Linked DNA regions of Homo sapiens: region 1 is linked to region 2. Evidence: fine-mapped expression QTL. A gene starts in region 2. The other region holds a variant in brackets. All regions are shown on one strand. Distances are from middle to middle.

Evidence for each region. PIP is the estimated chance that this variant, and not a neighbour inherited with it, causes the effect.
Region 1: its variant is fine-mapped to the expression of PAK6 in adrenal gland (GTEx, PIP 0.98).

What each region holds. Positions count from the first base shown.
Region 1 is chr15:40,264,272-40,269,635 of GRCh38, reverse strand. BUB1B-PAK6 (BUB1B-PAK6 readthrough) reads right to left here. Exons shown (of 10, transcript NM_001128629.3): 3 at 4,647-4,855; 4 at 3,141-3,794. The coding sequence starts at 4,850. It overlaps PAK6 (p21 (RAC1) activated kinase 6), which reads right to left. Exons shown (of 11, transcript NM_001395430.1): 4 at 4,647-4,855; 5 at 3,141-3,794. The coding sequence starts at 4,850. Among named protein-coding and RNA genes, the nearest start is that of PAK6-AS1, 14 kb to the right of the region's middle. The variant C/T (reference allele first, on the strand shown) is at 3,093.
Region 2 is chr15:40,236,562-40,241,925 of GRCh38, reverse strand. It overlaps PAK6 (p21 (RAC1) activated kinase 6), which reads right to left and starts at 2,863. Exons shown (of 11, transcript NM_001395430.1): 1 at 2,124-2,863; 2 at 1,245-1,327. All of the region lies in intron 1 of BUB1B-PAK6 (BUB1B-PAK6 readthrough), which reads right to left. LOC107984763 (a long non-coding RNA gene) reads left to right here and starts at 2,225. Exons shown (of 3, transcript XR_001751506.2): 1 at 2,225-2,441.

The DNA of each region.
Region 1 (5,364 bases), 28 kb before region 2:
TCCACAGGGAGGGAGCTTTTATCAATGTAATCACAAGCAAGGACCAGATGAAACTTGTGAGGCCACACAAGAAAGGGAAAGGGGGACACGACAACAGAATTAATTAATTGTTACAGGCTCTGGATTAATTCTGAAGTTACTCATGTGATAGACCTCTTGGGAAGAAAGCCACTAGAAGAGTCATGCATACATTTACAGCAATGCCTCATTTCCCGCCCTGAGCCATGGCTCCCCAGCTGTGGGCTTAGGGGGCTATACCTTAAGTATCCTAAAGGGGAGAGGCCATGGCATAATATTTTTAAAAATAATAAAGCCGGCCTGGCATGGTGGCTCAGGTGCCTGTAATCCCAGCACTTTGGGAGGCCAAGGCAGGTGGATCACTTGAGGTCAGGAGTTCAAGACCAGCCTGGGCAACATGGTGAAACCCCATCTCTTCTAAAAATACAAAAATTAGTTGGGTATGGTGGAGCGTGCCTGTAATCCCAGCTACTTGGGAGGCTAAGGTGGGAGGATCACTTGAACCCAGGAGGTGGAGGTTGCAGTGAGCCAAGATTGTGCCACTGCACTCCAGCCTGGGCGAAAGAGGGAGACGCCATCTCAAATACTACTAATAAAGCCATTTATTGAGGGCTTACCACTTTGACAAGTGCCTTCAACGTACTATCTCATGTAATCCTCATAACCCTGTGGGTTGTTTGGTTGTCCTGTAGGCACTGGAACCCGCAGGACGCCCGTGGCTGCTGACTCCCATGCTGCAATCCCACTGGTGCCATGTATCCTTGACATATATCGGAGTACACGGTAGGTGCTTAACCAATGTTTGCCCTTCTGACTCTAAGTGGAACATGTCTAATCCCTGCAAGCTCCTAAAAAACTGTCTTGCCTCTTTGGTCTCTGTGCCCCCACGCCCTGTCTTCCTGATCTCTTTAGCTAGAGTGACTCCAGGCCTCACTGCCTGGGGCTAGGTACAGGAGCCCTGGAGTCTATACTCAGACCCTCCTGCAGCCATGCCTGGCACACTGCATGGCCTCTGTGGCCTAACTGCTGTTATGGAAGCTGCTGCAAGTGTCCAGAGTCAGCCCCAGTGCCAAGGGCTGCTGGCTTGATCTGGGGACTCCTGGGGTAGGTGGTGGTGGAGGAGGAGGAGGAAGGCTGATGCTCCCCATCTGTTATTGAATTTGCTTAAGGCAGTGGTTCTTAATGGGTGTGCTCGAGTGACATTTGGCAGTGTCTGGAGGCATTTTTGGTTATTCCAACCGAGGGTACCACCAACTTCTAGTGAGTAGAGGCCAGGGAGGCTGCTACAGTGCAAGGAGAGCCCACCACAAAGGATGGACTGACCTGAGCGCCTGCAGTGAGGACGCTGAGAAGCCCCGGCCCGGAGCAGCTCGGGGGGTCTCAGCTTGCCATTGAGAGGCTTGGCTTCAGAGTAGAAATCTTGAAAGATGTGTCTGAGTTGCCCAGAAGGAAACCACTCCCCTGGATTTGGAAGTATGGTGTTGCTGAGCTCGAGATAACTACCGCCTGCTCCCACAAGTATGGGGGACATCCCGGCATACCCAGCAGCAGTGGCCCATGGTGAGTACTCAGTACATTGTGCAGGGATGGACAGGCCTCTCCCCCTGCTGTGGGGTGCTGGCAGGAGCCCAGAAAGATGCAAATGAGTGCCCAGCCCAGTGTTGACAACCCCTTTCTCCAAATCCCTGAGGCCTCGCAGCAGGACTCCTGAGAGACAGAGGGAGGTCAAGCTCCGAATCTCACCTTCCCAGCAGGGTGCACTGTCCTGATCTTACGTTGGTTTTCTGGCTGAGTCTCCCCAGGGGCACAGCCTTCCAGACACCCTGCAGCTCACAGATGCTCGTGTTCCTCTCACAGATACATCAAGCCACAACCCATGGGGATCCCAACCCACTGTCCTTTAACCTAGTAGGGGACTAGAGTGCACAAAGCTCAGAACTTTCTCTTTTTTTTTTGAGACGGAGTCTCGCTCTGTCTGTCCCCCAGGCTGGAGTGCAGTGGTGCGATCTCAGCTCACGGCAAGCTCTGCCTCCCGGGTTCACGCCATTCTCCTGCCTCAGCCTCCTGAGTAGCTTGGACTACAGGCGCCCGCCACCGCGCCCGGCTAATTTTTTTTGTATTTTTAGTAGAGACGGGGTTTCACCGTGTTAGCGAGGATGGTCTCGATCTCCTGACCTCGTGACCCATCCACCTTGGCCTCCCAAAGTGCTGGGACTACAGACGTGAGCCACCACGCGCGGCCGCCCAGAACTTTCTCTGAGTACCTCAGCTGGCAGGCAGTGACCCAGAGAGGTTGTAGTCCGGGTCATCCCCAAACCCACACCCTGTGCAGGCTGGGCCACACTCACCCCACCGATGACAGGGGAGTACCCAGGCTTGTCTTAAAGCCCTCCCAGGAGGGAGGGGAGGCTCCATTACCCATGCCACTGTCAGCAGCCGTTTCTTAGGACTGCCTTTGACCCTCCCAGGAAGGAGCTAAAGAACAAGTGGCTGCTGTGCTTGTAAAGCCTTCATACGCAAGAGTCATGAGCCAAGAGGGCCCGGGCCGGACAGGCAGCCCCAGAGCACTCCCCACCTTCCTTCTCTGACTCACTCTCCATCATGCCTGGGGGTGACTCACCCTCTCTCTATCAGTCTCCTCCTCTGCCAAATGGGAAAAGAGGTTACTGTCACTATCAACAGGATGCTGGAGGGCCTGGAAGAAGCAAAAAGGTGCGCTCCACTCTGCCTGCCAAGAAATGTCACCACGGGGGCTCCCTTCACCCTTTCCTTTCTCACAAGAAAAATGTGCGTCTGAAGCAGTCACACATGCCACAAGTCGGCCTCCTGCTGCCCCTGGACTAGGCAAATCCAGCTTTTCCTATGGCCACACACTTGGGAACAAATACTGACAGAAATGGGAAACAACACAACAGCCACAGAGAAAAGAAGGAAAGGAAGGGAGGGAAGGAGGAGGCGAGCCACCCTCCTTAGAGAAGAGGTTACCGTGCACATTTCTGCCGCCTTAGGCGGAAGCAGTCCAGGGAGCCTCTTTGCCAGTCCTCCAAGGGGAAGGCTAGGCAAGGCCTGTGTCC[C/T]TACACCCACTCCCCAGTGGACACCTGCAGGCCAGGCTCCTGACTTACCTTGCTCTGTGGTGGAGGGCCTGGCTTGCTGCTGCTTGGAGGGGCTGTGGCAGCAGTGGACAGGAACATGCTTCGGAATAGCCTGCGCTTCAGGCTGCTCTCCCGGGTCTTAGGGCTAGGGCTGCCTTCCCCACCTGGCCTGCCTGTGGCTGAGCCCACCAGGCAGGACTGTGGCCGGGCCTCCTCAGAGCCATGCTTGGCAGCCTTCATTCCATGCCTATTGGTGCCCGTGGGGGGCGAGGCTCCTGGTGGGGAGCTCTGCAGGCAGGCACCCAGCTGCAGACAGCGCTGCGAGGCACCCTGAAACTCGGCGGGGCCCAGGGACTGTGCCTTTGCAGCCAGCCCATTGGGCAGGACCCGTGGGCTCTGTGGCTCGGGCCACGGCATCTGCTTGTGGCCTGCTGGTGTGCCCCCGTTGCAGCTGAGGTAGAGGCCGTGGGGGTCAGTGCGCTCAGACTGGGGGCTCTGGAGGTACATGTCTGGGTCGGTGGCCCAGTGCTCATCCCCCAGCAGCCCCAGGGACTGTGCCCGCCGCCGGCTGGTGGGGCTGCGGCCACGCAGGGTGTTGGAGCTGATGACTGACAACTTCTGGATGTCGTTGAGCAGCCCCGAGATGTAGCCATCCACAGGCATCGCGCTGCCCCGCACCACTGTCTGTAGGGGGAAGAGAAAAGAGTGTGTGGGAGCTGCCCAATTGTGGCAGGGAGGGGTGGCTGGGAGATCAGGGTCAGAGAATGTCCCTGGGGGCCCTGGGGAGGACCACCTAAGGACCTTCCCTGCTGTGTCATCCACCCATTAATTTTTCCATAATTTATCAGGGCCCACCGTGGGTCCCGCCTGTGCTGGATGCAGGGATGCGGGGAGAAGGCCCAGCGTCAGCAGAGCAGATGGTGAGTGCCATGGGGCTGCATCCAGCATGCCCAGGGGTGTGGTCGGCTGGGCCAGGGAGCTGGAGCTCAGGGGGCGGGGCTCCATTCTCTAGCTCCACGGGTGGCTGGGAGAGATGTGCCCAGCCCTCTGAGGAAGAGACACCAGGCCGGGGGCTCCTCCACACACACTGGCTTCGCAGCCTCCAAACCCTGATAGGGCCCCTGACCCCACCTTCTACCAGGCTCTTGGGTCTACTAGTCGTGACCCTCACAACTAAAATTCTCCTGGTCTGGGAGAGCCCTCAGTCCCTATGGGGCTGCAGGTCCAAATATTGAATGGGACACGTCCTAAAAGACTATTCGTTGTCATCTGAAATACAAATGCAATTGAGCATCTCACATTTTCATGTGCTGAATCTGGCAACCCCACCACCCTGCAGAGAGGGTCTCCCCAGCCTCCTTCGCCCTGGCTTACCCAGGGAGAGAATGGCAGGCTGACAGGCAGGGAGTTAAAACAGCTGATTAACTGATAGCTGTGAAGTAGGTGGTTCCTCCAGGGGCCTTTCTGAGGTTTAGCCAGGCATGGTTGTCTGAGTACTGGGAGAGGCTGAACCTCATCCCTGCCGGCCCCTCTTACCTTCATGGGCTGGAGCTGCACCCGTGTGATTCGCGAAGGGTCCACCACGGGCTTGGGGCGCCGCAGTGTGTCCAGGATGTTCTGCCATTGTGGGGGGAGGCCCACAAACTTGCCTTCTTTGGGGTCGAAGGAGGTGTGGACACGGTGCTGGAAGTTCTGTGGCGCTGAGATCTCAGGGCGTTTCTTCTTTTTCTTGCGGAACATGGTGCCTGTAAGTGCAGAGTAAGGTTGAGCTCCCTCCCGGGAAAGAGGGGTGGCTGCAGCAGGGCCTGGGGCACCAGGTTCAGGGCTCCCTCCCCTCCCCCAGCACAGCTCCCCTAGAAGCCTAGGGCTTCCCTCCACCTCCATCTCTGCTTCCTCAGGGAAATGGCTGGCTCCCAGCAGAACAGTCCCAGAAACAACAAACGTGCCATAAATAAGCCAGTGCAGACTATAAACAAGGAAAAGAGGTGTCTTCTTGCCTGTGCCAAGTCCCCTATGGAGCAGGCAGACTCTGGGGGTGTGTTTTTATAAAATCCAAAGCCCATTACAAGTATCATTCCACTGTCTGTCAACGAATTTTAAAAATGGGGAAAGAGGGAGGAAAGTTAGCAAGCTTGTTTTATGAAACGAGTATGACCTTGATTCTTAAAACCAGATAAGGAGAGTGCAAGAAAAGGAAAATTTGACTCAATATCATTTAGGAACGTAACTATGAAAATCTTAAAACTATCGAATT
Region 2 (5,364 bases):
CCTCATCCAGGAGCCAGGTGTGGGAATTCACTGGCATGAGAGACACTTATGGGTTCCTCCTGACTCTGAGCACATGTGCTCCTCCAGGGCAGGGGACTTTTTGGTCATCCTTAGGAGTTGTGCACAGAGCGGGCTTTCCTTGGCTGGAGACCCCACCCACTGCACCCTCCCTGTGTCTGGCAAGTCCGGGAGGGCCCAGAGCACTCACAAAGCATCAGTTTGTCCTCGGGGCACTGGAGAGGCCGTGCAGTCCCCACACTCCCCCTCTCAGGTGCACAGAGCTTCCATCCAAATCAGCTGCTCCCAGAAGGGCTTGCCTCTGGTGCCGACCCTTCCCTGACCAGGCGCTCTGTCACTAGGGCTCCCAGGTGCCACCTCCAAGCCTGGGCCAGGACAACCGCCAGGGAAGCCTGCCTGCAGAGGGGACTCCTTGCTTGCCCCAAAGGCCTCAACCCCAGCTAGATGAGCTCCCGTGGGGCTGAGTCCCAGGCCCACCAGGCCTGGGGGCCACACGGCTCCTAAGCTCATCCTCTCCTCCTGCAGCCCAGTTCCCACCAGAACCAGCCTCAGGAAGACCCCAGGCAGAACGGCACAAACCTCTTGGTGTACAATGCCAGGGAAAGGATAACTGGAGACCACAAGACGTTAGCCTTGCTTCCCGGTGGGGCCCAGTGCTTTATAAACCCGAGCTCACTGGGCCCGATGTCCCCAAAGCTGACCAGGTCATCCACCCTGCAGCAGGGGTGGGGAGACCAAGGCCTGTGAGGAGTGACCGTGCTTGGCCAGGCAGCTCCCTGAACCTGCCCTGATGCTGAGTTTCAGAGTCAGAATCTGTGCCAGGTCAAACCCAGCCAAAGGGTGTGACTTGGAGCCTGGGACCCAGCAGTGCTCCCTAAATATTTGTGGAATGAATACACAAGGGAAATGTCCCAGAGGTGGTAAAGTGAGAGGGGCCTTGGATAGGGGTGTCCCGGTGGCACTGGCTTGGCCCAGCTGGGGCAGGAAGAGTAGAAACAAGCACCTCTCCCTCTAGCTAGGGAGCCAGAGACCAGCTGGGATTGGACTGTTTCACAATCAATCTGGAAAGAAGGTGGCAGGCCGGGTGGGGAGTGGAGCCCCTTGACCCAGGAACCCACAGCTGTGGAGTTAGCCTCCCTGTCCCAGGTGGGAGGCAGCCTGGACACCTTGGCACCCCCGTCCCTAGCCCAGGAATCCGGAGCACGCAGCGGCAGTGGGGACCTTACCGTGGCTGCTCCTTCTGGGCAGCGGGGTCCTGCGTTCTCCACTGCAGGCTGGTGCTTGTCTCTAGCCCAGGAAGCGGCACTCCCTTCAGGCAAAATAGAAAAAAAAAAAAAAAAAAAAAGGAAAAGAAAACCTCAGTGCTTTTCTCACCCAGCCTCTTCTCTTGAAGGCTCCTGGTTGGTATTGTCCTGCCACTGTGGGCACACAGCCTCCCTCCCTCTGGCAGCTTACTCACTGGTGCCCGCAAAGCTGCCAGCTGTGTGGGGGAGAAGGGACCTCCCCCCTCCTCCTGACACACACTGGGGCATGCCCTGTGGGGACCAGGGGCTTGAGGGTGGCACCCGCTGGGTCCTGATCATGGGGAAGCCGTACCCTGGCCAGCACCCTTCTCACTGAATGTGTCCCTGTGAGCTCAGCAGAGACGCACATGGGTGCTGACTGGCCCTGCATAAGAGAGTGACATGGTTCTTGGTAGGAAGCTGTTTCCTTGGTACCCAGGCCTGCCAGAATGAAGGGGCAGCTGATGGGCTGTCCAGCCCCCCAGTGATGGGCTCTCACCCTGGCCAGCCCCTCCGGACGGCTTCCTACCTGGGCATCTTGCTGTGTCTCTGTCCTGTGCACCCAGACAGGGCCTGGGCCTGCCGGGGCTGGCAGCTGCTCCTCACCCTGCTCAGGCCGTGTGTCTGGCGTCCCCTCTCCCTGACGCCCATCTCAGGGCCTGCGCCCACCCAGCATCAGTTAGGATAAACTCCTGTCAAGCCCCCAGCCAGCTCTCTGCTGGACCCAGCTGCTGTCCCCAGCAGGGGGACGGCACACACACTGGCTTACACACTCTCGCACTCACACACACGTGGGTCCACACCCAACACAGAGCCACCTACCTGCCCAGGCCAGCCTAAGCCAATCCAGCCTCGCTCTCCAAATGCCACTCCGACCCCAGAAGCCACTCCTTTACCGAAACATCCCCGTGGGAGATGAGTTCAGAGCCAGCCCGGGAGGACTCCAGTCAGCTCGGACAAGACTGCCCTTCTGTCCCAACACCTCCAGAGGACACACACAGGCAGCCTGACCACCATATCTGCTATTGCACTCTGCCTGCTGCCACAGCCCCCCGGGCACTTCTGGCCCCCACAGCGTCTTCCATATCTTTAGGGGGTGGCAGCAGACTCACAGCAAGTCCCATCTTCCTGGAGCCCAAGGTAGGGAGGGGAGAGCTAGAAGGGGCGGGACTCAGGTGCAGCTCCAAGTTTCCAGCTCCCAAAATAATCAGATGCAAAGGAGAAGCAAGAACAGCTCGAGGCGGGCGGTGACTCAGTGCTAGTGGGCCGGCTTAGTCACCTGGATGGCTGCTGGCGGCTCCTGGCACATCAGGACGGGAGCAGCGCCCTCCCCCACCTGCCTGGACCGTGGCTGTCTCCAGAGTGTGGCCGCCGAGCCCCGCGCCCAGGGCTGCCTGGCAGGCGAGGCCGCTCCACCCCGCTCCCGCCCATCAGGGCCCAGCGGCCCCGGCTGCGGCGCGCCCCTCCTCCACCGCGCGCCCCGGCTCACTTTGGGATTTCTCCATTAAATCCTCAGGCATCGACCTGCTCGTTTGGGGCGCCGAGCTGCTCCAACGTTGCTTGGCAATTTTGATATCGTCGGGGGTTGCCATGGGGAGGAAGGTGATGTCATTGACACAAAAAACCCACTGAATTTACAAATCAGCTGGGGCTGGAGCTATTTATAAAAACACGTTTTTATCTGCCTTTCTTTGCTGAAGGGGAGGAGGAGGAAGGGCTGCCTGCCGGGCTCAGGGTGAGCCTCCCTGCTGTCCTTCCTACCCTTGCCCTAGAGAAGCCAGACCTCCTTGGCTCACCCCCACCCCCACCCCCCAGAACTTGGAGCTGCGCATTCAGATCTGGCAGGTGCTGGTCTCAGCTGGTTTTGCTTCGAAGGCTGAGAGTGGCACATGGGATGTAAGGCAGGGTGGGTGCTGGCTTCCTGGGCTGGCAGGGACCAGAAACCAGTTACTCAACCGGGTCCCTTTATTTCATTGCCCCTGGTCAGAAACAGAGGCATTTGCTGGTGAGGCAGCTTGAGCTCCTTGATGTGCCCCCCTGCCAGCTCCCCGGAGCGCCAGGTGGAGCCCAGCCTTCCACAGTGCCCTCCCCATCCCTAGCCTCAGTGTCTCCTCCACTGGCTTCTTTTCTTCTCCTAGTGTCCAATCGTGGGCTGCCCAAGCTCCAGGCTTGGTCCCCTGCTCATCTCTCCCCACACTCAGCCACCACTCCATCAAAACACCTTTTTTCTGTGGCTTTGACCATCACCTGGGCAAATGCTTGCCCGAAAACCCATTTTGTGCCTGCCCCACTTCAGGCGCCACCTCTGATGGCCCAGCTCCCACTGCCAGGACCCACTAGCTATTGACAGCCAGAGGGAAGCCTGGGAGTTCTTGCCTCTTCCCGTCCCCCAGTCCCTTATATCCAAGGTGGCACTTGGCTCTACATTTTATTTTTGAAAACTTTCTAACTTTCTTCTGTAGCGAAGCCATGTGGTGTTTGGTTAAAAGTCCAGGCTGTGAGTCTTCAGTCTTCCGCATCTCAGCTCCACTGTTCATCAGTTGAGTGACCTTTGGCATGTTATTGAACCAATTGAACTTCAATTTCCTCATCCATAAAATGGGGATGATTTCACCTGCCTCACAGGGCTGTGGAAATTAAAGGAATAAAGTTTCTGGCACAGAGACTGCTCATCTTGATCCCAATAAACATTAGTTTTTATCCACCCCTCCACTGATGGCAGATTAATCTTCCCAAATCATGACCCTAGGCACCTTCTGTGCAAAGGTCTCAAGCTGCATGCGTAGACATTTTGATTGAACGCAGTGTTAGATGTCATGGCATTAAACATAAGAATTTCAATTTGTGGCCAGGCACAGTGGCTCACGCCTGTAATCCCAGCACTTTGAGAGGCTGAGGCGGGTGGACCATGAGGTCAAGAGATTGAGACCAGCCTGGCCAACATGGTGAAACCTCATTCCACTAAAAATACAAAAATTAGCTGGGCGTGGTGGCACATGCCTGTAATCCCAGCTACTTGGGAGGCTGAGGCAGGAGAATTGCTTGAACCCGGGAGGCGGAGGTTGCAGTGAGCCAAGATTGTGCCACTGCACTTCAGCCTGCGCGACAGAGCGAGACTCTGTCTCAAAAGAAAAAAAAAGTTCAATTTGTGGTCAATATGAAACATTTTCCCTTTAACTAGGTTATCAGTTCCTTTTGGAGAGGAACTCTGTATTTTTCTTCTTTTTGTATCTCAATGTAATTTTGTGTGTAAACTTATAAATAATCCACTTCTGCTCTGTCTCACTAAGGAATGATCCAGGAAATGCAAACTAAAACAAAAGGGATATACCACTCCCTGTCATTATACAGTGAAAAAAAAATGGCAGGTGGGAGAGTGAATTGGTACAGTCTTCTTGGAGGGCAATTTTACAGTCTTGACCAAAATTTCAAAATGTGTATGTACTTGATCCAGCAAATGCACTTCTAGGAATCCAAGTTAAGAAATAGTTGCACATCGGCCTGAAGATATTTGTATAAGAATATTCATGGTAGCACTGTTTGTAACTGCAAAGAATTTGAAGCCACCAAAATGTGCATCAATTGGGCAGATTAATTGGGTGACAGATCTATACAGGATGGTACATCCCCATGCAATGAAGTATCTGCAGCCTTAAAATGAATGAGTTTTGTCAGTCGGTATGTATGTACCAGCTATGTGTGTACCGGTATGCATGTACATACGTATGTATGAGGAAGGATGACCACGATAGTTGAGCAAAAAGACCAGGTTTATCAATGTTAACTTGAAAATGAGATGGCATAATCTCATATAAGTTTTTTTATTTAAAGATATTTCTATATCTGTATGTTTAAACCGCAAACTGTCAATGTGGTTATCCTTGGAAATAGGAGTGGTGGTGAGAGGGGTCTTTCACTTTGGACTTTTTACACTCTTGCATTGTTTCAGTGAACATGTACTGTTGTATTTAAACAATACAAAAGTAAAAATAAAGGAATGTATGTTTTTAAAACTAATAATAGGCCAGACGCAGTGGCACACGCCTGTAATCCCAGCACTTTG